Linked DNA regions of Homo sapiens. The protein of the gene in region 2 interacts with the protein of the main gene of each other region in a pairwise test. Each region holds a gene or a part of one and is shown on either strand. Other genes may lie near its edges.

Region 1 (7,419 bases), on a different chromosome or scaffold from region 2:
ACATGTAATTCTAGCACTTTGGGAGGCCAAGACAGGCAGATCACCTGAGGTCAGGAGTTCAAGACCAGCCTGGCCAAATGGCAAAACCCCGTCTTTGCTAAAAATACAAAATTTGGCCAGGCCTGGTGGCGCTCGCCTGTAATCCCAGCTACTTGGGAGGCCAAGGCAGGAGAATCGCTTGAATCTGGGAGACAGAGGAGGAGGTGGAGGCTGCAGCGAGCCGAGACGGCGCCACTGCACTCCAACCTGGGCAACAGAGTGAGACTCCATCTAAAAAAAAAAAAAAAGTATACATATCTTCAAACCATATTAGATTATAAACTCACTCTAGTAAGTATAGACATTCTTTGTCAAAGAATGCCAAAAACAGAGACATATACTATGACACTTACTTTGAAACTTTCTGACAGAGACCTAGACTAAGAGATTCCTTTTATAGATAACACATGGATACATAGACGGGAACACCACACACTGGTGCCTATCAGAGTTGGGTGGGAGCGGGGAGAGGGTCAGGAAAAATAACTAATGGGGACTATGCTTAATACCTGGGTGATGAAATAATCTGTACAACAAACCCCTGTGACATGAGTTTCCCTATATAACAAACCTGCACATGTACCCTTGAACTTAAAAGTTAAAAGAGATACATTTTACATCACTGTCTGGTAAATATATACATACACATGAACATATTTATGTGCATGTCATGAAACAATACAAACTCTCAGCTATATTTTCTAATTTTCTATTATATTCTATTTCATTTTCTTTCTTTTTTTTTTTTTTTTTGGAGACAGAGTCTTGCTGTGTCGCCCAGGCTAGGGTGCAGTGGCGCGATCTCAGCTCACTGCAAGTTCCACCTCCCAGGTTCACGTCATTCTCCTGACTCAGCCTCCCGAGTAGCTGGGACTACAGGGGCCACCATACCCGGCTAATTTTTTGTATTTTTAGTAGAGACAGGGTTTCACCGTTTTAGCCAGGATGGTCTCGATCTCCTGATCTCGTGATCCGCCTGCCTGGGCCTCCCAAAGTGCTGGGATTACAGGCATGAGCCACTGCGCCCGGCCTCTATTTCATTTTCTACTACAACTCCTGACCCACTAAACTGATTTAACAATCCACTAATTTGTTAAACCTGGAGTTTGAAAACACTGCTCTTCAGGATTTAGCATAGTGCTCTTCACGTACTCTGTAAATGTGCTGAATACGTCAACTTAACTCTCCAATTCTTCATTTGGTCTTGGCAATTATTATTATTCATCCCATAAAGCCAACAGTTAAAAGATTTTTACAAAAGTAACCACTGTTCATAAAGAAAACCTAAATGTTAGTATTCTGAGTAATCTTTTCTTCAGCTATTGGGTTTATCTGAAATGTGCTTACGTGACAGCCTGGGGGCGAACCACAACTCCACCAGTACAACGACTGGGTCTTCTTGGGGAATCTGTAGCCATAGCTTCATTCATAAAACCTGTTTCCAGAACAAACAAACAAACAAAAAACAGAAAAACATGGATCGTTGTTGGGGGTAGGGAGGAAGATTTATGATTACTCACTAGAGATCCCTTGTCAAAAATGCCTCAAATGTAGGAAACTTTCCCAGAAATTCCTGTTACACCAGAAAGGGAAAAAAGGAGGAAGTAGGTTTTTAATTTTTTTCAAATTATAATGAGGGGTTTGGGGGGTTATTATTATTTTTGAGATAGAGTCTCGCTCTGTCGCCCAGGCTGGAGTTCAGTGGCACGATCTCTGCTCATGGCAATCTCCGCCTCCCAGGCTCAAGCAATTCTCCTGCCTCAGCCTCCTGAGTAGCTGGGATTACAGGCGAGCGCCACCATGCCGAGCTAAATTTTATATTTTTTTGTAGCGACGGGGTTTCACCATGTTGCCAAGGCTGGTCTCGAACTCCTGAGCTCAAGCAATCCATCCGCCTTAGCCTCCCAAAGTGCTGGGATTATAGGCTTGAGCCACCGCGCCCATCCTGTTTTGTTTTTTAATAGGACCAGGTCTCAGAACCACAAAACAATGTAAGGAAGACTCCTGCTGTACCCCTTGGTCTGTTGTTAACATAAATTACAAGGGTGAGAGAACCAGATCATGGGATGGGAATTTACTGCAATTTTATGTTGAGATAGTGAAAATACACATGGTACAATATTTCAAGACCAAACGGAACAAGTGACATGATATCACTCTACCTTCCAATTAAACCTGTTGGGAATCTATGAGTAAATCACAATTTAAATCACATTCGTAACCCCCTGCTACTATAACAAATAAGTCAAGTAATTATTTGACTAGTAGCAAGTAGTCAAATAACTAACATAAACTAATACGTTGTTACAGCCCTTTACCCTTTCCCGTCACATCAGTAAATCCTGATCCTAGAATGTTTCATGACCCTCTGAATCACTGAGATTTTAAGAGCATGGAGTCGGCTTGGTTAAGGTTAAAAGAGGACTGACAGCAATATCAAAGATCTCTTACAGGGCTCAGGGAAGCCCACAACCTGGAACTCATCTTGAAGGCACCGAAAACCATTTTTAAGTAGGGAGCATTCACACCTGATGTGAAAACTCTAAACCTGTGCGCCCCACCTCCTACAACCAAAACACCCTCTGCCCCAAGGAGCAGAGCCACCACCTCCTCAGAGGATACCTGCACCTCCAGCCCCTCAGCCCTCTCATTCTCATCCCATTCTTGCTTTCTCGAACCACAGTCTCCCAAGCCCTGCCCTTTAAGGGCCCTGTCTCCTGGGGACGACCCTCGCCAGCCACTCAGGCCCCAGTCTCCTGAAAGACACTCGTACGGCGCTGCCCACTTAACCTCCAACACGGAGCCACCGCTGCCCCCGGCCGCCCTCCGGCCCCTTGCACTGTTCCCCTCCCCCTCCAGTATCGACACCTCTCTCCTGTCGAATTCCTGCCAGCCCGACCCAGTCCCCTCACGCCGCCAGTCCCTCGTCCTCCCCAAGCCTCCCCAAAGCCAAAGCCCTGCCAGCCCTCTCACCGGCCGCCCCGCCGGTTAACGCTAGTCTCCAGCTCTAGGCTCACTGTTTGGAGTCTCCCCGAGTGATTGACGGCAGCCACTTCCTACCACGCCTCAGCGGAACCACCCCCTCTAGCCAATCCCAGAAGCAAACCGGCTATGGCCGGGCACCGCCCTTGGAGGTCAGCTTCGCCAACCAGCAAGTAGGAAAGAGGCGGACCCGCCTTCTGAATGTGTCCAATCCGCTGGGGCTGGAGGGAAAACACAACAGCATGTAAGTTCGGGTGAAGCCGAGGTGTCAGGTTCGGTTGCAAACGCAGGCAGCTGGGGAATAATTACGAACATGTACATTTTTTTTGGAAGACAGAACCTTCGTGGCTTTGAAAAGAAAAGCAACATGATCCAGACTCCTGTCCCGCTCACGTGAGCGTTTCAGGTTGGAGCCGGAGGACAGGGAGACTGGTCTGTTTACATCGAATTCTCGCGACAGCTGGTTCCAAGCTCGGAGCACGTGGACATGGCAGCTGCCAATCACTTTTAGCTGGCCACTCACCCGTCCCACACCCGCCTTCTGCCCAGCCCTTGGCGATGTGTTTACCTTCCGGGAGCCTAGGCTGGCTCGCGCCGGCGATCAGCCGAGGAGGGGTTGATCTGAATAAGGGGCACGGCCGGTAATCTCAACAATTTGAGCTAGGTTTGTAGACCACTTCTTGCTTCAGTTTCCATCTCCCTTATTGTTGAAGATCGAGATCTCGCCATTGTCATTTCATCAGTTCATTTATTAATATAAGTAGAATAATACTGACTGACTTCTTGAACACTCAGCACAGGCCTTCGTATACTTCATATACAATACTCTAATGTATTATCAAATTTAATGCCAATGACAGGTCCGTGAGGGTATAGCTTATTAACAGGCGTGGTGGGCTGGGCGTGGTGGCTCACGCCTGCAATCCCAACATTTTGGGAAGCCTAGGCGGGAAGATCGCTTGAGGCCAGGAGTTCTAGAACAGCCTGGACAACATGAAGAAACCCCGTCTCTACTAAAAATAGCCAGGTGTGGTGGCCAATGCCTGTAATCCTAGCTACTGGGGAGGCTGAGGCGGAAGAATTGCTTGAACCCAGGAGGCGGAGATTGCAGTGAGCCTATAGATCACGCCATTGCCCTCCAGCACTTTAGCCTGGGTGACAGAGAGTCCCTCTCAAGACAGATAGATAGATAGATAGATAGATAGATAGATAGATAGATAGATACATACATACATACATACATACATACATACATACATACATACATAAAATTTTAAAAAATTTTAAAAAAAGAAATGAAAGAAAAGGCCGGGCACGGTGGCTCACACCTGTAATCCCAGCACTTTGGGAGGCTGAGAGGGGCAGATCACTTGAGGTCAGGAGGTCAAGACCAGCCTTGCCAACTTTGTGAAACTCTGTCTCTACTAAAAATACAAAAATCAGCGGGTTTTGATGGTGCACGCCTGTAATCCCAACTACTCAGGAGGCTGAGGCAGGAGAATCGCTTGAATCCGAGATGTGAAGGTTGCAGTGAGCCGAGATCGTGCAACTGCACTCCAGCCTCTGGGCGACAGAGCAAAACTCTCGCTCAAAAAAAAAAAAAGAAGAAGAAGAAGAAGAAGAATATATTTGGAAATATTGAAATAACTTGATAATGTGGGATTGAAATAACTTGATAATGTGGAATTGTAACATTGAAAAGGAGGCCTAGCATGACTAACTCCATTTTGCTCCTAAACTCCCCACTCCCACCCATCGGTGATATCTAAGTTAACTGCTTTTGCTTATCTCTGCACATAGACTAAGCTAACCAAGGGAGGAATTTATAGTTTAACTTTAAAGCAAGGATGATAATAGTCCCTTCCCAAAACTAACCCCCAAGGAGAAAAGGAGGGTGTACACACAAGTAACAATGTTGAGAGTTTGAGAAAGTATTGTGACCTGACCAGTAACAGAGAGGCTTCAGGCCTCGAGGAACCCTTGCTGGCGCCCAGATGTCTACGGTCATCAGTCACCCCTTGATTCAAACCCTCTCTTCTTCCCCCTGCCCTTAACACAAAAAGAGCCTGAAATGTGTACTAACTTAAGATGGTTCTTCAGGCTGGGTGTGATGGCTCACACCTCTCATCCCAGCACTTTGGGAGGCCGAAATAGGTGGATCACCTGAGATCAGGAGTTCAAGACCAGACTGACCAACATGGAGAAACCCCGTCTCTACTAAAAATACAAAAATTAGCTGGACGTGGTGGTGTGCGCCTGTAGTCCCAGCTACTCGGGAGGCTGGGACAGGAGAATCACTTAAACCCGGGAGGTGGAGGTTGCAGTGAGCCAAGATCAAGGCACTGCACTCCAGCCTGGGCGACAGAGCAAGACTCCAACTTTTTTTTTTTTTTGAGATGGAGTCTCACTGTGTCACCAGGCTGGAGTGCAGTGTCTCAATCTTGGCTCACTGCAACGTCCACCTCGCGGGTTAAAGCGATTCTTCTGCCTCGGCATCCTGAGTAGCTGGGATTACAGGCACCCGCCACCACTCCTGGCTAATTCTTTGCATTTTTAGTAGTGACGGGGTTTCACCATTTTGGCCAGGCTGGTCTTGAACTCCTGACTTCATGTTCCACCCGCCCTGGCCTCCCAAAGTGCTGGAATTACAGGCGTGAGCCACCATGCCCAGCCAAAAAGATGGTTCTTTAGTACATTATTCTGCAATTTTCCGGGTTTGCTAGCTCTCAGAAATAAAGTTACTATCCTTGCTCTAACTCCTTGACTCTTCACCCCTTGGCTGTCATGCAGTGAGCAGAACAAGTTAGGACTCGGTTACAGGATGAAGGTGAGAGGTGAAGCCAGCTGGACTTCCTGGGTAGAGTGGGGACTTGGAGAACTTTTCTGTCTTAGGAGAGGATTGTAAAACACACCAGTCAGCACTCTGTAGCTAGGATTGGAAAACGCACCAATCAGCACTCTGTAGCTAGCAAGGGGATTGTAAGGTGCACCAATCAGCACTCTGTAGCTAGCAAGGGGATTGTAAAATGCACCATTCAGTGATCTGTAAAAACGCACCAATCAACGCTCTGTAGCTAGCAAGAGGATTGTAAAATGCACCAATCAGCACTCTGTAAAATGCACCAATCAGTGCTCTGTAAAATGCACCAATCAGTGCTCTGTAAAACGTACCAATCAGCAGGAGTCTAAAAGCCAATCGTGGGGAAGATTGAAGAAAGGGCACTGTGCTAGGACAGAAACGGAACATGGGCGGGGACAATAAGGGAATAAAAGCTGGCCACTCCCCCCAGCAGCGGCAACCTGCTCCAGGCCCCTTCCACTCTGTGGAAAGCTAAAAGCTTTGTTGTTTCCTTCTTTACAATAAATCTTGCTGCTGCTCATTCTTTGGGTCCATGCCACCTTTAAGAGCTATAACACTCAACGAGAAGGTCCTCGGCTTCGTTCTTGAAGTCAGACCACGAATCCACCGGAAGGAACCAACTCCGGACCCAAAGGGAAAGAATCAAGGATGTTCAAATCCAAGAAACCTTAAAGGTGTTAGAGGAAAAAAAAAAAAGATGTTTTCTGTGTTTTGGGCTTGATCAGCTGAGTGGTGCCATTTACAAATAGGATGAACACTAGCTGAGTTTTACATTTCTTGGTAAATTTCTGTGCCTTCATTGTTTCATCCTTTGTAAATTGTAGAAGGAATAATATGGGCGGGGCGCGGTGGCTCAGGCCTGTAATCCCAACACGTTGGGAGGCCGAGGAGGGCGGATCATGAGGTCAGGAGATCGAAACCATCCTAATGGTGAAACTCCATCTCTACTAAAAATACAAAAAATTAGCCAGGCGTGGTGGCTGGCGCTTGTAGTCCCAGCTACTCGGTAGGCTGAGGCAGAGAATGGCGAGAACCTGGGAGGCAGAGCTTGCAGTGAGCCGAGATCGCGCCACTGCACTCCAGCCTGGGCAACAGAGCAAGACTCCGTCTCCAAAAAAAAAAGAATATTATGAGCCTCATAGGCTTTCTTTTTAGCAGGGGCGTCAGAGGGGGGCAGTTTTGCTGTTACCCAGGCTGGTGTGCAGTAGTGCAATCATAGCTCACTGCAACCTCCAACTCCTCGGCTCATGTGATCCTCCCACCTCAGCCTCCTAAGTAGCTGGGTTTACAGGCACACACCAACATGCTGGCTAATTAAAAAATTTTTTTCTGTAGAGACAGGGCCTCCCTATGTTGCCCAGGCTGATCTTGAACTCCGGAGCTCAAGTGATTCTCCCATCTCAGCCTCCCAAAGTGCTGGGATTACAGGTGTGAACCACTGCACCCGACCCCATAGGCTTTTTATGACTAAATAAGTTTTTTTTTCTTTTTTTTTTTTCTTTTGAGACAGAGTCTCACTCTGTCACCTAAGCTGGAGT
Region 2 (7,104 bases):
CCTGGCTCTCTGGCTCTGGGTCAGTAAACTCCCCAAAACCATGTAAGTCCACCTTTAATTCTGCTTGGTTTTCCTTTTCTTTTTTTTTCTTTTTTTTTGAGACGGAGTCTCACTCTGTCACCCAGGTTGGAGTACAGTGGCATGATCTCAGCTCACTGCAACCTCCACCTCCCAGGTTCAAGTGATTCTCCTGCCTCAGCTTCCTGAGTAGCTGGGACTACAAGTGTGCACCACCACAACCAGCTAATTTTTTTTTTTTTTTTGAGACGGAGTCTCGCTCTGTCGCCCAGGCTAGAGTGCAGTGGCATGATCTCGGCTCACTGCAAGCTCCGCCTCCCGGGTTCACGCCATTCTCCTGCCTCAGCCTCCCAAGTAGCTGGGACTACAGGCACCCGCCACCACACCCAGCTAAATTTTTTGTATTTTTAATAGAGACGGGGTTTCACCATGTTAGCCAGGAGGCCCGCCTCGGCCTCCCAAAGTGCTGGGATTACAAGCGTGAGCCACTGCGCCCGGCCTGTTTTTTTTTTTTTTTTTTTTTAATATTTTTGGTAGAGACAGGGTTTCACCATGTTGGCCAACGTGGTCTCGAACTCCTGACCTCAAGTCATCCGCCCGCCTTGGCCTCCCAAAGTGCTGGGATTAGAAGCATGAGCCACCATGCCCGGTCAGTTTTCCTTTTCTTCATAGGGGAAAATGCAGAAATGCTTCCTTAATTAAAATAAGTCTTATGAAAGCTTATCATTTTCACAGCCCCTAGGATGAATGAAATGTTTGCAAAAACAAAGGTAACTGAAAATCCAGAGGATGAAATCTCCAAATTCTAGGCCACCAGGAAAACTGTTGATTAGGAGCTTGAAAATAAGGAATGAATGAACTTATCTCTGAAAAGTGAGCCTGACCTCACTCCATTGTGGGAAGTATCCTCTTCCTCGGAATGCCAGCCTGAGCATTGTTCTTCCTCTGTCAACCCACCCACTCTACCACTTTACCCTGTAGAGCTCAAATACATGGAAACCAAAGAAAGTCTGCCTATCTAATACCCACTCCTCTATTCCCATCCCATGACACCATCTGCTGAGCCATACCACAGACACATACAACAAACACCAGGGGACAGGAAGGGCTAACCTCATACTTTGGAGCCTCAGTCCATGAGTCTAACTGAAAAGAGAAAGACAGTCCTCTGAAGTTGAGATGGAAGAGCTGCTCAGCGGAGTTGTACACTGTTGGGGGTGGGGGAGAAGAAAATAACATGGTTGACTGGCATCTGAAATGGCTAACATAAACCAGCCTGGCAGGGAGTAATGACTGACAACACCTTCCCTGTGGCTTGTTTCTAAACTGGCCTACTAGGTTGAAAACAAGGGGGAGGATGTTTCCTTCACACCCAAGTACCAACCCCACAATCCTATGGGAGCCTGACTCCAGGAAGTGGGGTGGGATGGCACTACCGGGCAGGTTTATTGCTATGAACTGCCACTGATGACCAGAGGAATCAGATGGACTTGGCTTACCTCCAGGATGGGTTGCGCCAAAAGACTGGTCAATCTGTTCAATGGTAGGAGCTATGGCCTGAGAATTAAAATGCACGCCACTGAAAAACAAAAATATTTTTTAATACTAGGCTTCACAAGATGGGCCCACAGATCATGTGAGATAGTAGCTGGGAGAGTTATTTTTAAGACACAGGCAGGTGAGTCTCTAATTATATCAAAATACAAAGCTTAATTAGAGAACTTTTAAATAAGAGCATTAATGAGGTCAGGAGAAGGTCAGTTCTCATGAGGCTGATATACAGAGTTGATCCTCTGGGGCTTTATGACACCAGTGACTCTTAAGAAAAGGGTAGAGAAGAGAAGCCACCAGACCCTGAGGTATGAAGGCCCCAGTAAAACTAAAAGACAACTAGAACCTGCAGGGGCCAGTGGTACCACACATTTGCTTGTCTACTCCTCTATCAGCAAAACTGCCTGAGCCTGCCCCAGGAATCAGGTCCTCTTCACACCCTCAAAAAGGGAAAGGGAAGCCAGTTAAGGAGACTTACTGAAAGGAGTATTCTATCGCTTGAACCCAGGAGGTGGAGGTTACAGTGAGCTGAGATGGCGCCACTGCACACCAGCCTGGGTGACAGAGAGAGACTCCGTCTCAAAAAAAAAAAAGAAAGAAAGAAAGAAAGGAAGGAGTATTCTAGATTTTTAGATGCAGGCATGCTGCCTTGCCATAATGGGGGCGCAACAACTTTGGACTGTGCATGTCATCCCCGCTGTAATTCTAAAAAATACATTATAGCTCTAAAATGGTGGTCTCTTTGGCATTCTCTTCAGCATAGGCTTTGGAGTCAGACCTATCTGGTTTGTCCCACCTCTGTTACTCATGAAAACATGAAAAGAGGTGCCAAGAGAGGCTGTCAGCGGGAGGGCAGCTATGACCCAGGAGACTGTCACATCACCTCTGAGCTGAGGTCTGGCTTTGTCAAGTGGATTAAGTTAGATGACATATACATGAAGTGTTAAACACATCACATATTCTTAATGAGGTTTACTTCTCTTCTCCAGGAAACTGAGCAGGCTTGAAGGTTGCCTCAGGAATTCATGGCACCAGGCTATAATTCACATCTGTGACAGATGTGAATCTTTACTAACTTATGAAGATAGTAGATATGGCCTGTCTATACCAAGTGTGACATATACCAGCAGGGGAGAAAACTTACCAATATTTTAACTTTACTTTAGTCAAATCACATACTTCGATCACCTAAAAAAAAGTTTAAGAGTTGTCAATGCTCTGAAAGTGATGACAGACTAAAAATGATTAAAAATACATTTATAGAATAAATAGTAAAAAAAAAAAAAAAAAAAACTATTACCAATAGAAATTTTATGGAAGCACTGCATGTTATCTTTTGTTCTCATTTAAAATTTTTTTAAAAACTTTTTGTAGAGATAGAATCTTAGCAAAACTAAAAAACTATGTTGCCCAGGCTGGTCTCAAACTCCTGGGCTCAAATGATCCTCCTGTCTTAGCCTCCCAAAGTGCTGGGATTACAAGCATGAGCCACCATGACAGTCCTTTGTTATTTTGAAACCAGGGAAAAAACCAGTTTCCCCTTCAGCATAACCATAGCCAGTGTCCCCTTCAGCATAACCTCTTAGCTTCCCTCTCCTAGTGGACTGCTCAACAGATGTCCATGGATGCTCTGGGTCAAGGCTCTTACATGCAGTCCACTTCTGGGTCAGGCTGGAGCACACACCACCCTATAGGACAATGATCTCTTCCACAGACATGAAGCTTGTTAAGGCTCTGCTTTGGGCACTAAGCCCCCTTCCTCCCATCTCATATTTTGCTGCATTTTAAAACCCAGGTCGGGTTGCTTTAGAAAATAGCTTATTTTAGCCGGGCACGGTGGCTCACGCCTATAATCCCAGCACTTTGGGAGGCCCAGGTAGGTGGATCTCCTGAGGTCAGGAGTTCCAGACCAGCCTGACCAACATGGTGAAATCCTGTCTCTACCAAAAATACAAAAATTAGCTGGGCGTGGTGGCACACACCTGTAATCCCAGCTACTGTGGAGGCTGAGGCAGGAGAACCGCTTGAACCCAGGAGTTGGAGGTAGCAGTGAGCTGAGATTGCGCCACTGCACTCCAGCCTGGGTGACAGAGCGAGACTCCGTCTCAAAAAAAAAAAAAAAAAAAAGGCCGGGCACGGTGGCTCACGCCTATAATCCCAGCACTTTGGGAGGCCGAGGCGGGCGGATCACAAGGTCAGGAGATTGAGACCATCCTGGCTAACACGGTGAAACCGTGTCTCTACTGAAAAATACAAAAAATTAGCCAGGCGTGGTGGTGGGCGCCTGTAGTCCCAGCTACTGAGGAGGCTGAGGCAGGAGAATGGCGTGAACCCGGGAGGCAGAGCTTGCAGTGAGCGGAGATTGCGCCACTGCACCCCAGCCTGGGCGACAGAGCGAGACTCCTCCAAAAGAAAGAAAGAAAGAAAGAAAATAGCTTATTTTGAAGTTGATTTTGTTTACAAAACAAAAAGATGGAGGGGGAGGTCTATCCCATTAGAAAGCAAGCCATAATATTTGTCACACAAGTGTGACAGTATTCAGTTATGTCCCTGATGAAGAGGATCTGGTTGAAACAAGAAAGCCTCAGGACCTTTGTGAAGCTTGCTCTTTAATGGGTTCAGCCTCAGATGAAATTCTAAGAACTCAGGGCAGGGCAGAGATAAAGGAATAGGCATCACCTAACACTCCGCCATCAGTGGTGCCAAGTAATAAGCACTATGAAGTCCTCCATGCAATGGTGTCAAGGGCTTGGCAGCCAGCAGCACAGGTAGGGGCTCGGAGCACCATCTACCATCCTCCAGCTGGGAGGTTTTGCTCTCATTGTGGAGACACAAGCAGAGCTGGCTCAATATCTGTTTGTCCTGCCAATCTGAGCCTGATTGTGGAAGAGGCTGTGGGGCATTGTATGCAGGAACATCTGGCACTGCCAAAGAAACTGAGACATAATAGATAGTAGGTTCGCTTTTGGCCAGAGACCCTATCCCTAACTTTATTTAGAGACCACAACACTGAACCAAATTGGATACCTCTTGACTATAATGTAGCTCTTTTGATCCTATCTGCTAGAAAGAACTGCTCCCTCTGCTAGGCCGTCACAGCACTGGAATGAATCCTTTCCTCCATACTTGTGTATTCTGTTAAGTGGTCCAATAAGTTAAGCCCCTTGAGGGACTCATTAATTTGCATAGGGAAGGTGTTCAATTCATGTTAGGCAATTCTGCCTGGTATGAAGCTTGAAAGCATGAAAAGAAGTGCCAGGAGGGGCTGTGGAAGGAAGGGCAGGGGAACAGCTATGATTCAGAAGATAGCCAGTGTCCCCTTCAGAATATCTGGGCATGGGAATATATCATGCCAAACTGGCATGCCATTTCACTGAGGCCAGAGCCTTGTCTAGCAGAGAGCCTCTACCTTCAGCCAGAAGCCCTCCTGTTCATAGCAGGCACAGGCACTCACCTCCCTCACTTCTATCCCTACAGCTGGCCAGTCATCCCCCAAAGCTTCCCACCACCCGCCCTGTGGAAGTGAGCCTGCACGATGTTCCTCCTGTATCACTGGCACCCCACCTGCCAACAGCTATACGGGTCCAACACATATAGGTGCTTCGACCCTGCCTGATCAATGGGAAAACAGTGGACCAGAGCTAATCACAGGGCACGAAGCAGCACTTGTGGCAATGGACCCAGAGTGCTGGCCATCCTGGAGTCCTTCATGTCACTAGGAGCATCAATAAGCAGATTTCATCTCTTGGAGCTTGCTGCACTACAGGGACAAGCAGCTGGGAAGGCTAAAGCCCATGATTTTCCATCTCTGGGCTACAGAAGCTCCTGATTTCCCCAGAGGGGAAGAGATGTGGCAGCAGCCAAGATAAAAATGGAAAAGACAGGTGGCTGTAAAGGTTGTGACTTATAAAGCCTCATTCCACAGGGCTGTCTCTCTTAGGCTTGAGGCAGGGGGTGGGAAGCAACTATAGGAGGCAGCATCAGAAGAGGTGGATTCTGAAGGTGTTGGATGGAAGGGCAGGAAGATAGGTCAGGTCAGGCTGGTGCCAATCAAAAACACCTGGGTGATTACTTGCTCAGTTTCCAGAAGACTCAGGCAGGACCCCAGTCTCTCCTTCATGGGGATCCCACAGAAGGCAGAAGAGGATTGCCGGTTTGATTTTATCTCCTTTCCTATCCAAAGGTACCTCCCATTCCTCATATTTCTGTACATTTCTTCAGCTTTTCTTATTTATTTCCCAGATCCATCAACAGAGCCTAAGTGGTCAGCCACCACATATTGCCAATATCCAGTTAAAAGCCTGGCATCAGGTAGACTACTTATCCTCTCTGTCCCTCGGTTTTCTTGCTAGTAAACAGTACCTACTTCACAGGCGGGTTAGGATTAAACTAGAAAACGCATGTGAAACACCCAGCCATGTGCCTAGCATATACTAAGCACTCACTAAACATATGACATTGTCTTCACCATGCTGTGATTTTATGGGCTGCTGGACATCCCTTTTGTTGCCCATTTAGGTTACTTCCAGCTTCTCATTACCATGAAATACCGTTACCTTCCCCCAGTGTTTCTGGGTTACATTTTCTAAAGTGGACTTTTACCAAGTCAAAGGGAAATGACTACTTGTAAAGAAATTTCCATGTTACCAGATTAATTTCCCCCCAATTTTTTTTTTTTGAGACGGAGTCTTGCTCTGTTGCCCAGGCTGGAGTGCAGTGGTGCGATCTCAGCTCACTGCAAACTCTGCCTCCCGGGTTCACGCCATTCTCCTGCCTCAGCCTCCCAAGTAGCTGGGACTACAGGCGCCTGCCACCATGCCCAGCTAATTTTTTGTATTTTTAGTAGAGACGGGGTTTCACCGTGTTAGCCAGGATGGTCTCGATCTCCTGACCTCGTGATCCACCCGCCTCAGCCTCCCAAAGTGCTGGGATTACAGGCGTGAGCCACTGCACCCGGCTCCAATTTGTGATTATGCGATATTGAAGATCATCCTCTGCCCTTTCCCAGTGTGGAACTTCTGGCCATGGAGACAGGATAGAATGAGGAATTCTAATTCCACATACTGATTCTCTTTCCATGTTTTGTTTTCTCTCCTTAGCAGTTCACTTGTGACAAGGATGATGAGAACTGGTAAGTACCCAAGTCTTTTGGAAAGGCTACTCCATAACCCAAGAAGGACAACAACTCTGGCATGCCACTGCCCAGGGCCCATCCAACCTCATGACTTTGAGGCATGACTCTGGTGTCACATGACTAACCTGTGAGGCCCAGGCATTTGTAAACAGGGTATATCAAAAACAGACTGAACTGGGTGCGGTGGCTCATGCCTGTAATCCCAGCACTTTGGGAGGCCGAGGCGGGCGGATCACGAGGTCAAGAGATCAAGACCAGCCTGGCCAACATGGTGAAACAAAAAATTAGCTGGGCGTAGTGGCACGCACCTGTAGTCCCAGCTACTGAGGAGGCTGAGGCAGGAGAATTGCTTAAACCCGGGAGGCAGAGGTTGCAGTGAGCCAAGATTGCACCACTTCACG
Region 3 (8,068 bases), on a different chromosome or scaffold from region 2:
CTGAGCAATGCACTTTTTGTAATGAGCTTACTAAAGGAGACATGTCCAGTCATTCTGGTAATTTAAATTACTGCCTAGTTGTTGATAGTCTTTACCGGAACAACCAGAAAAAAAAAAAGAGTAATTTTCAGGGCAGTATCACTTCTTGCTGGACCGTAGCCCAGGGTTCTCTTTCGGGACAACAATAAGGACGTTATCTCTAATAATGTAGCTACACTTAAACTTATGTTGCCAGAACTAGATGCAGCAGGCTCACTGTTCCTGGGTCTCAAAGGCCATTGAACACATCCACACGCTGTCAGATTGCAAAGCAGCCTAAGTTTTAGGAAATCAGTGAGTTAAATGCAGAAAGAGACAACGGTAGGAAAGAGACATTGTTTTCCAAAGAAGTAACTAGAGTTGAAAAAAGAAAACCTCACTGATGAGGCAAGTTCCAAATACGTACCTCACTAAAAATATTTTAATTATTTTGCTTTTAGGGAAACGATCAGAAAATATATGAATCCACGCTTTATCAATATTTCTGCATGCCACTTGAACCAACTTACAAATAGGGAAGCAATTCTGTGCTCAGAAGGAATGATAATTGTGGATATTTTGAAACACTCAGGCGAGGAAGGAGGATGAGCTTGGTGGTTCAACACATTCAGACAAGGGATGCCCACTCTCCTCAGATTCCTAACTAACTTTGGATTTGTTCTAAGGGTGACTTTGCAAAGTTTATGAAAGTGTTCCACCAAACTTCTCCCTATGTTTTGCTAGAGTTGGAACAGAATGAAATGTGGAGGTGGGTCTGCAGAAGACCAGTCTTACCTAATGTTGCCTAAATCAAGAGGGTAAAGACAGAGAGAGAGGAAAAAACAACTAAACTTAAGCTTTTTGCGAAAGCCCTGATTCAACTAAAGGACACAAAGAAATAAAAACGCCCACATTAAAAGCCAAACAAGATAATAATTGTGCATGTCTGGCTCTGAATATAGAGGGCAAGGTTTGCGTCACTGGCACTCTGAGTTACCATGGTGAGTGATTTATTGATATATATCAAGAATGAATAGATCAAAGGCAGCGAGATGACAGGTGATCAATCAAATGTCAAATCAAAACTAGCAATCAAGTGGAAAGCTGATTTTTCAGTGGGTGGGTCTGGCAGAAGAAAAATGAACTTTCATATTACATTTCCGAGAAACAAAACCCCAGCATACTATTAAAAAAGCAATTAAGCAACCCAAAAGAAAAAAAAACTTTAGAAGGTCTATTGTACTGATCCATTAACCTGTTCTTATCTTTTTTAGGGGGCAGTAAGGATTCAGATGGGATAGTTTTTACAGTACGAATCATTTCACAAAGTTTGCAACTCTCTAGGCAAAGAAAATCCAGAGCTGTTTAAATTTCTATGGGGAATTTCCCCCCTACAACCCTTTTTGGTTTTTTTAAAGAATAGGGAAATTGTTAATTACATTTCCAAATATGGATCCTTTTAGAAAATATATGCAAAGAGTCATCCATTTCCTGGGGGCATTTTGTCCACCTTGGTGATCAACGCTAAACTCCTATTGCTGGCCCCAAAGCCTGCCTGCAGCCCGAGTGTTAGGTATGCCTCACACTTCAGCGCCCCAAGCCCCAGTGAGAGGAGACGCTATCCCTGGAGGCCAAAAGCCACTGGCACTGACCACGCAGAGGGATGCAGGGGTGGAGGGGCTGTCTCCCTACTCCGCACCCCAAATCCTCAATCCGACTTTGGCCCGAGAGGCAAGAAACAGACTGGAAGAAAGTTAGGGGTGGGGTAGAGGGTGGAGGAAAGAAAGTTTAAGGAGGAAAGGCTTGGTGGGATAGCTCACCCCAACCCAACCGGAGCTTGGAAGGGGAGGATTTGGGAGACCAGAGAAGGCGAGAGAGGACGGGGTTATTAGAAGGGCACCCGGCGCAAACTCCCCCGAAAGCTTAAGTGGGTGGTGCCCCCGGGCACCCAGGGGCAAGGAGGGCGGGCGAGGAGCTCGGCGCACAGGGCAGCCCCGAAGCGGAGCCGTTTCTCTTACCTGCCGCCCGCTTGGGTGCCTGCTGTTTTCTCCTCGGCATCCTCTACTTCGCTCCAGTCCCACTTCTGGCGCCCCAGCCCCGAGCCGCGCGCTGGGGCCCGCTGTCTCTCTGGCCTCTCTGGGTCTCCTCCGCCTCTTGCCCGGTGGCTCCTAGGACGTCACTCGGCCTCTGTCCCCCTGACGATCCCCCCTGCAACTCCTCCACCACGGGCCAGAGACCCCCCTCTCTGGGTGGCAGACACGGGTGGCTTGTGCCGGCTGCTTTGAAGTAGAGGTTGGTTCTGCCTTGTTTGTTTGTTTGTTTATTTTGAATTTTTTTTCCTCTCTCTTTTTTGTTTTTGCTTTTGGAATTTTTTTGGTTTTGTTTTTGCGGTTTTTTTTTTTTTTGGTGACTGTTGAGACACTTGATTTCTTTATTAAACATCCAAGCCCGGGTTCGGATGGAAGGGACGAGGGGCGCACACGCGCCACAGGCACACTCGCGCGTAAAGATAAGGAAAAAAAAAAGGCAATCCTGGGAAGGTAGTGGGTTTCTTCTTTTTCTTCTTCTTCCTTCTCCTCTTTCCCTCCTCCTCCTCCTCCTCCACCTCCTCCTCCACCTCCTCCTTCTTTTCTTCCTCCTCCTCCTCCTCCTCCTCGCCGATCTCTATGGCGGATTCGTGCCGGGGGGAGAGCGATCACTCACTGTAGGTTTGTGGCTGCTGTCAGATCCCCGTCTGTGAGTGATATGCGAGAGGACAGGAGCGGGTTTTGGAAAGACAGAAAATCTGGAATTCACTCACTCACACACACACACAGACACACACACAGACACTCACACACGCACTCACACGCGCACGCACCCCCGCTTCCTCGCACACACACACTCACACCCCCCACATATGCACACACACACAAACACACACACACACCCTCGCACACACACACAAGACAGGGCGAGGCGATGCCAGCAAACATCGATCCCGCTGAACAAACTGAACATTAACAAACTCCTCCTCCTCCTCCTCTCCCCGCGACCTGATGACAGGGAGAAATTTACTCCCCAGCCGCAGAGCGCCAGGCAGCGGGAGCCTATTAAAGGGACAGCGTCCCGCAGGGGAGAGGGGCTGGGGGCGGGGGCCCCGGCGCGCCGGCCCAGGCCCCTCTGTGCGCCCTCTCCGCCGGGGCGAGGGCGTGCCCACCGGGCGCGGGGACACCCCTCCGGGAGGCGGAAGGGGCGGGGGCGGGAGGAAAGGAGGTGAGGAGGGAAGGGGTGCGGGAGAAAAGGAGGCAGTGTGATGATGGCTGAACTCTGAAGCTGGGAGGCTGTGGAGGGAGATTCAGGGGGGCCAGGTTGGCTGACCAGCAGGGACCATGCACAATCTTAGGAGAGGGAGAACTTAGGTTTGCTCGGGGCTGGGAAGGGGGAGGGGACCTTATCCAGTGAGGATCTCCATCCTGTAAGTCTTAACCTGCCCCCACCAAAATGTGCTCCCCACGACCCCTTCAATTTAGTGCCCCTGTCCCTCCCACTTTCTCGCTAATCAATGGGTGGTCACAAAAACAAAAATCTCCCTTCTGTCTACTTTAAGGTCTAATCATATACTCCTCTTTTTGTTTCCTTTGAAGAATGTTTATTGAGCATCTACTATGTGCCTATTCTGGAGACACAGAGGCCACAGAGAAAGGGAAGGTGGTGGCCATGTTGGTATTTATATTCTAATGGGGGAGTGCAGACAAGTGCCCCCCAGCTATCCAATCTTTGCTTAAATGTCCCCTTTTCCCAAAGGTCTACCTCACCTAAAATACACACACACACACACACACACACTCCCTGCCCCATTTCTCCATTTTGTTATTCCCCAGTGAGCTGATCAGTGAGTGTCACACAGGTTATAGACAGTTTTCTATTCTGTTGATTGTACAAGTTCCCCTCTTGAATGTAAGCTCCAATGGAAGGAAGGATTTTTGCCTCTTTGTTCTCTTATATCCCCAAGTGCTGGCAAAGCACAAGACATATAATAAGTGCCCAGTAAAATATTTGTTGAATGAATGAAAAGTAAGCAAGCAAATAAACAGGATACTTTGAGTGATTCGCTCCATGAAGACGTTAAGCTGAGTGCTGTAATAGTGTCTAAAAGGGGGTGGGTGGCTCTAGATTCAATGTAGGATATGGCATTTGAGCACAGAGAGATTGAAACAAACATGTGATTATTGAGTTCTGCTATCGGCCAGGCACCTTTTGAGGTGTTGGGGGCAAGTCTGTGAACAAGGTGAACCTAGACCATGCCCTCAAGGAGTGCTCCTTCCAGTGAGAGGGCAAAGCAACTGAGGGCATTTGATGCAGGCTGGGACTAGAGGTGTTTTTTTTTGCTTTATTATTTTTTTTATTTCAATAGCTTTAGGGGTAAAAGTGGTTTTCGGTTACATGGATGAATTGCATAGTGGTGAAGTCTGGGATTTCAGTGCACCCGTCACCCGAGTAGTGTACATCGTACCCAATAGGTAGTTTTTCAGTCCTCACCCCCTTCCCATACTCCTCGCTTCTGAGTTGCCAATGTCCATGATATCTTTCCATATGCCTTTGCATACCCATGCATTAGCTCCCACTTATAACCAAGAACGTGTGGTATTTGGTTTTTGATCCTGAGTTACTTCACCTAGAATAACGGCCTCCAGCTCTATCCAAGTTGCTGTGAAAGACATTATTTTGTTCTTTACTATGGCTGAGTAGTATTCCACGGTGTATATATATGTGTGTATATACACACAAACACACATATATATACACAAATACACATATATAGATATATATACCACATTTTCTTTATACAATAATCAGTTGATGGGCACTTATGTTGATTTCATATCTTTGCAATTGTGCTGCAATGAATATACGCCTGCAGGTGTCTTTTTGACATAATGACTTTTTTTCCTTTGGGTAGATACCCAGTAGTGGGGTTGCTGGATCAAATGGTAGATCTACTTTTAATTCCTTGAGAAATCTCCATACTGTTCTCCATAGAGATTGTACTAATTTACATTCACACCAGCAGTGGGTATAAAAGTTCCCTTTTCCCCACATCCACACCAATATCTGTTGTTTTTTGACTTTTTAATAATGGCCATTCTGGCTAGGGTAAGGTGCTATCTCACTGCAGTTTTAATTTGCATTTACCCTGTGATTATTGATGTTCAGCATTTTTTCATTATGTTTGTTGGCCATTTGTCTGTCTCCTTTTGAGAAATGTCTATTCACGTCATTTGTCCACTTTTTAATGAGATTATTTTTTTTTTTTTCTTGCTGATTTGTTTGAGTTCCTTGTAGATTCTGGATATTAGTCCTTTGTCAGATGCATAGTTTGCAAATATTTTCACCCATTCTGTAGGTTGTCTGTTTGCTCTGATGATTGTTTCTTTTACTGGGTAGAATTTTTTTAGTTTAATTAGGCTCCATTTATTTATTTATTTTTGTTGCATTTGCTTTTGAGGGCTTAGTCAGAAATTCTTTGCCTAAGCCAATGTCCAGAAGAGTTTTTCTTAGGTTTTCTTCTAGAATATTTATGGTGTCAGGTCTTATGTTTAAAGTCTTTAATCCATCTTGAGTTAATTTTTATATATGGTCAGAGACAGGGATAGTTTCATTCTTCTACATGTGGCTATCCAATTTTCCCAGCACCATTTATTGAATAGGGCAGGGGTCCCGAACCCCTGAACCATGGACTAGCACCTGTCCATGGCCTGTAAGGAACTAGGTGGCACAGAAGGAGGTGAGCAGGTAGGGGTAAGCAAGCATTACCATTTGAGCTCTGTCACTTCAGCAGGGGCATTAGACTCTCATGGGAGCTCTAACTCTATTGTAAACTGTGAATGCAAGGGATCTAGGTTGCACACTCCTTATGAGAATCTAATGCCTAATGATCTGAGGTCAAACAGTTTTATCCCAAAACCATCCACCCTGCCCTGGTCCATGGAAAAATTGTCTTCCATGAAACCAGTCCCTGGTGAAAAAAAGGCTGGAGAACACTGGAATAGACCTTTTCCCAACTTATGTTTTTATATGCTTTGCCAAAGATCAGTTGGTTATAAGTATGTGGTGAAGGTGTTCTTAGGAGGAGTGATTACCCTGAACTTGGCGAAAGGAAGGATGGTTACCAGGCGGGGCTTCAAGGGAAGAGGTAAGTCAAAGCTGAGTCTTACATATAACAAACGGGTAGGCAAAAAGGGAACTCTGATACTGAAGCCCTTGTATCAAAAAGACACCGTGTAAGGCTTCTGCTTCCGCATTAAAATCTCCTGAGGCCCTTGTTAAGATGCACGTACCTGGTCCTTGCCCTAGAGCAAGATTTTCTAACCCAGGCCCTATTGACATTGAAGGTCTGATAATTCTTTGTTAGGAGGGGCTGTCCTGTTCAATGTAGGATGTTTAGGAACATCCCAGGCTTCCGTTGTGACAATGCAAACTGTCTCCAGATACTGCCCAATGTCCCCTGGTAGGCAAAATCGTCCTTGGCTTAGCATCACTACCCTAGATCTTCTGAATCAGAAAATTCCGGATGAAGGCTTAGAGATCTGTATTTTGAACATGTAACCCATCCATCCCTACAAGTGAAACTTCTGCTCACACCAGTTAGAGAACATCTGCCCCCAAATTGTTTGTTCTTTTGTAATCAGACATACTCAATGTTGTTAACTATAAAGCCAAGTCAGGCTTAGATATTAATGTAACTTAAGGGTTCAAGGGGTGATGTTGTAATGGTGGCCGTCGCGATGGGGTTTCACCTGTGCCCACTCCTCAATACTCCTCCTCCCACCATGATCACCCCCACCCCACCACCCCAGCAAGGCCTGCCCAGTCTGATCTGGGACACTTCCCACTACAACCCACCCACCTGCTTATGGGGAACTACCAGTTCTGACTAGTTCCATGAATATTTTTCTTAACAGTTCTTTGGGCTGTATGACACTCAACTTTCCCTATCCTACTTGTCAGCCACAAAGTGTTGTTGTGATTGTTTGCAAAGTGCTGTTTAATCATTTTTAACATCCTCACGCACTTCTCCATCTCACATGTGTGGTACAAGTTGTTAACTCACTTGCCCTAAATCACCCGAGAAGCCTCCACCCATGACCAACTCCACCCAGTCCCAGCCTAGTCCTTAGGCAACTGAGGCAGAAAAAGCCCGATTTCATAGTTGGCAATGTCAACAAAAAAGGTATTAATTCTAATTACCCAATACATTTTTACAGAGCACTGTGCAAGGGACCATAGCCTATTGAATAAAACCTCACAGCCTTGCAGCCAAGGAACCACCGTTGTGGGATTAGGGGATACTTGTTTATAGGATCAGGAGGCCTGAACAGAAGAGGAGTGAAGCTGCAGCAACCTCACCATGAAGCCGCCATGCTCTGTGCAAGCCCCATGCCTGCTGGTGTGGTGTTTGTGTTACATTCAGCCAGTTATTTCACAGACATCTACTGCGCCTGTTAGGTCTACCAGGCCTTGCCCCAAGCACAGCAGATTTTGGAATGCATAAGGTAGGATCATCACCTTCAAAAAGCTTTTGGATGTTATAATAACATCCCAAAGACTGGGAACTAAAAAAGAGGGAATTTGGAAGCTGGGTCCAGCCTTGGAGACAATCAGGAAGGAAATGGGCAGGAGAAGATGACTTTGGATGACAGAATTTCCCTGAGGTTCTATCCAATATCCTTCTCAGAATTTTACATCCGCTCTCTCCTTGTTCTCAATAGCTGGTTATATAATGTGGGGGACTTGTAACAATTCTGCAGTACCTACTTTCTGGCTGGCTATTAACACATTGTTGGATCTACATTTCTGAAATGTTCTTTTATTAATTTGTATTTTTTCATACCGTTACTAATAGTTAGCTTAGTTATCCACGAAAATGGTTTTGGCTTACACCAGCGGGATGTATAACACTATGTACCCAGTGCTGTAGACAAGATGTTAAATAATATTGAATCACATAGTAAGAAAGTTATTCCCTTTCAATTCTCTTTCAATCTGATAAAATAACCATTTTGTGCTC

Evidence for each region.
Region 1: the proteins of PHAF1 (region 2) and BCAS3 interact in binary tests that used the Homo sapiens proteins (3 or more experiments, as listed by UniProt).
Region 3: the proteins of PHAF1 (region 2) and TSHZ2 interact in binary tests that used the Homo sapiens proteins (3 or more experiments, as listed by UniProt).

What each region holds. Positions count from the first base shown.
Region 1 is NC_000017.11:60,673,508-60,680,926, reverse strand, and holds the start of BCAS3 (BCAS3 microtubule associated cell migration factor), read right to left. Parts: upstream 3,077-7,419; 5' UTR 3,013-3,076; intron 1,475-3,012; 5' UTR 1,470-1,474; coding exon 1,387-1,469; intron 1-1,386. UniProt on the Homo sapiens protein: Plays a role in angiogenesis. Participates in the regulation of cell polarity and directional endothelial cell migration by mediating both the activation and recruitment of CDC42 and the reorganization of the actin cytoskeleton at the cell leading edge.
Region 2 is NC_000016.10:67,126,939-67,134,042, reverse strand, and holds part of PHAF1 (phagosome assembly factor 1), read right to left. Parts: intron 2,758-7,104; coding exon 2,714-2,757; intron 1,598-2,713; coding exon 1,518-1,597; coding exon of another isoform or gene 1,227-1,517; coding exon 1,132-1,226; intron 1-1,131. UniProt on the Homo sapiens protein: Plays a regulatory role in autophagic activity. In complex with BCAS3, associates with the autophagosome formation site during both non-selective and selective autophagy.
Region 3 is NC_000020.11:52,967,302-52,975,369, reverse strand, and holds the start of TSHZ2 (teashirt homolog 2), read right to left. Parts: upstream 3,013-8,068; 5' UTR 2,077-3,012; coding exon 2,037-2,076; intron 1-2,036. UniProt on the Homo sapiens protein: Probable transcriptional regulator involved in developmental processes. May act as a transcriptional repressor.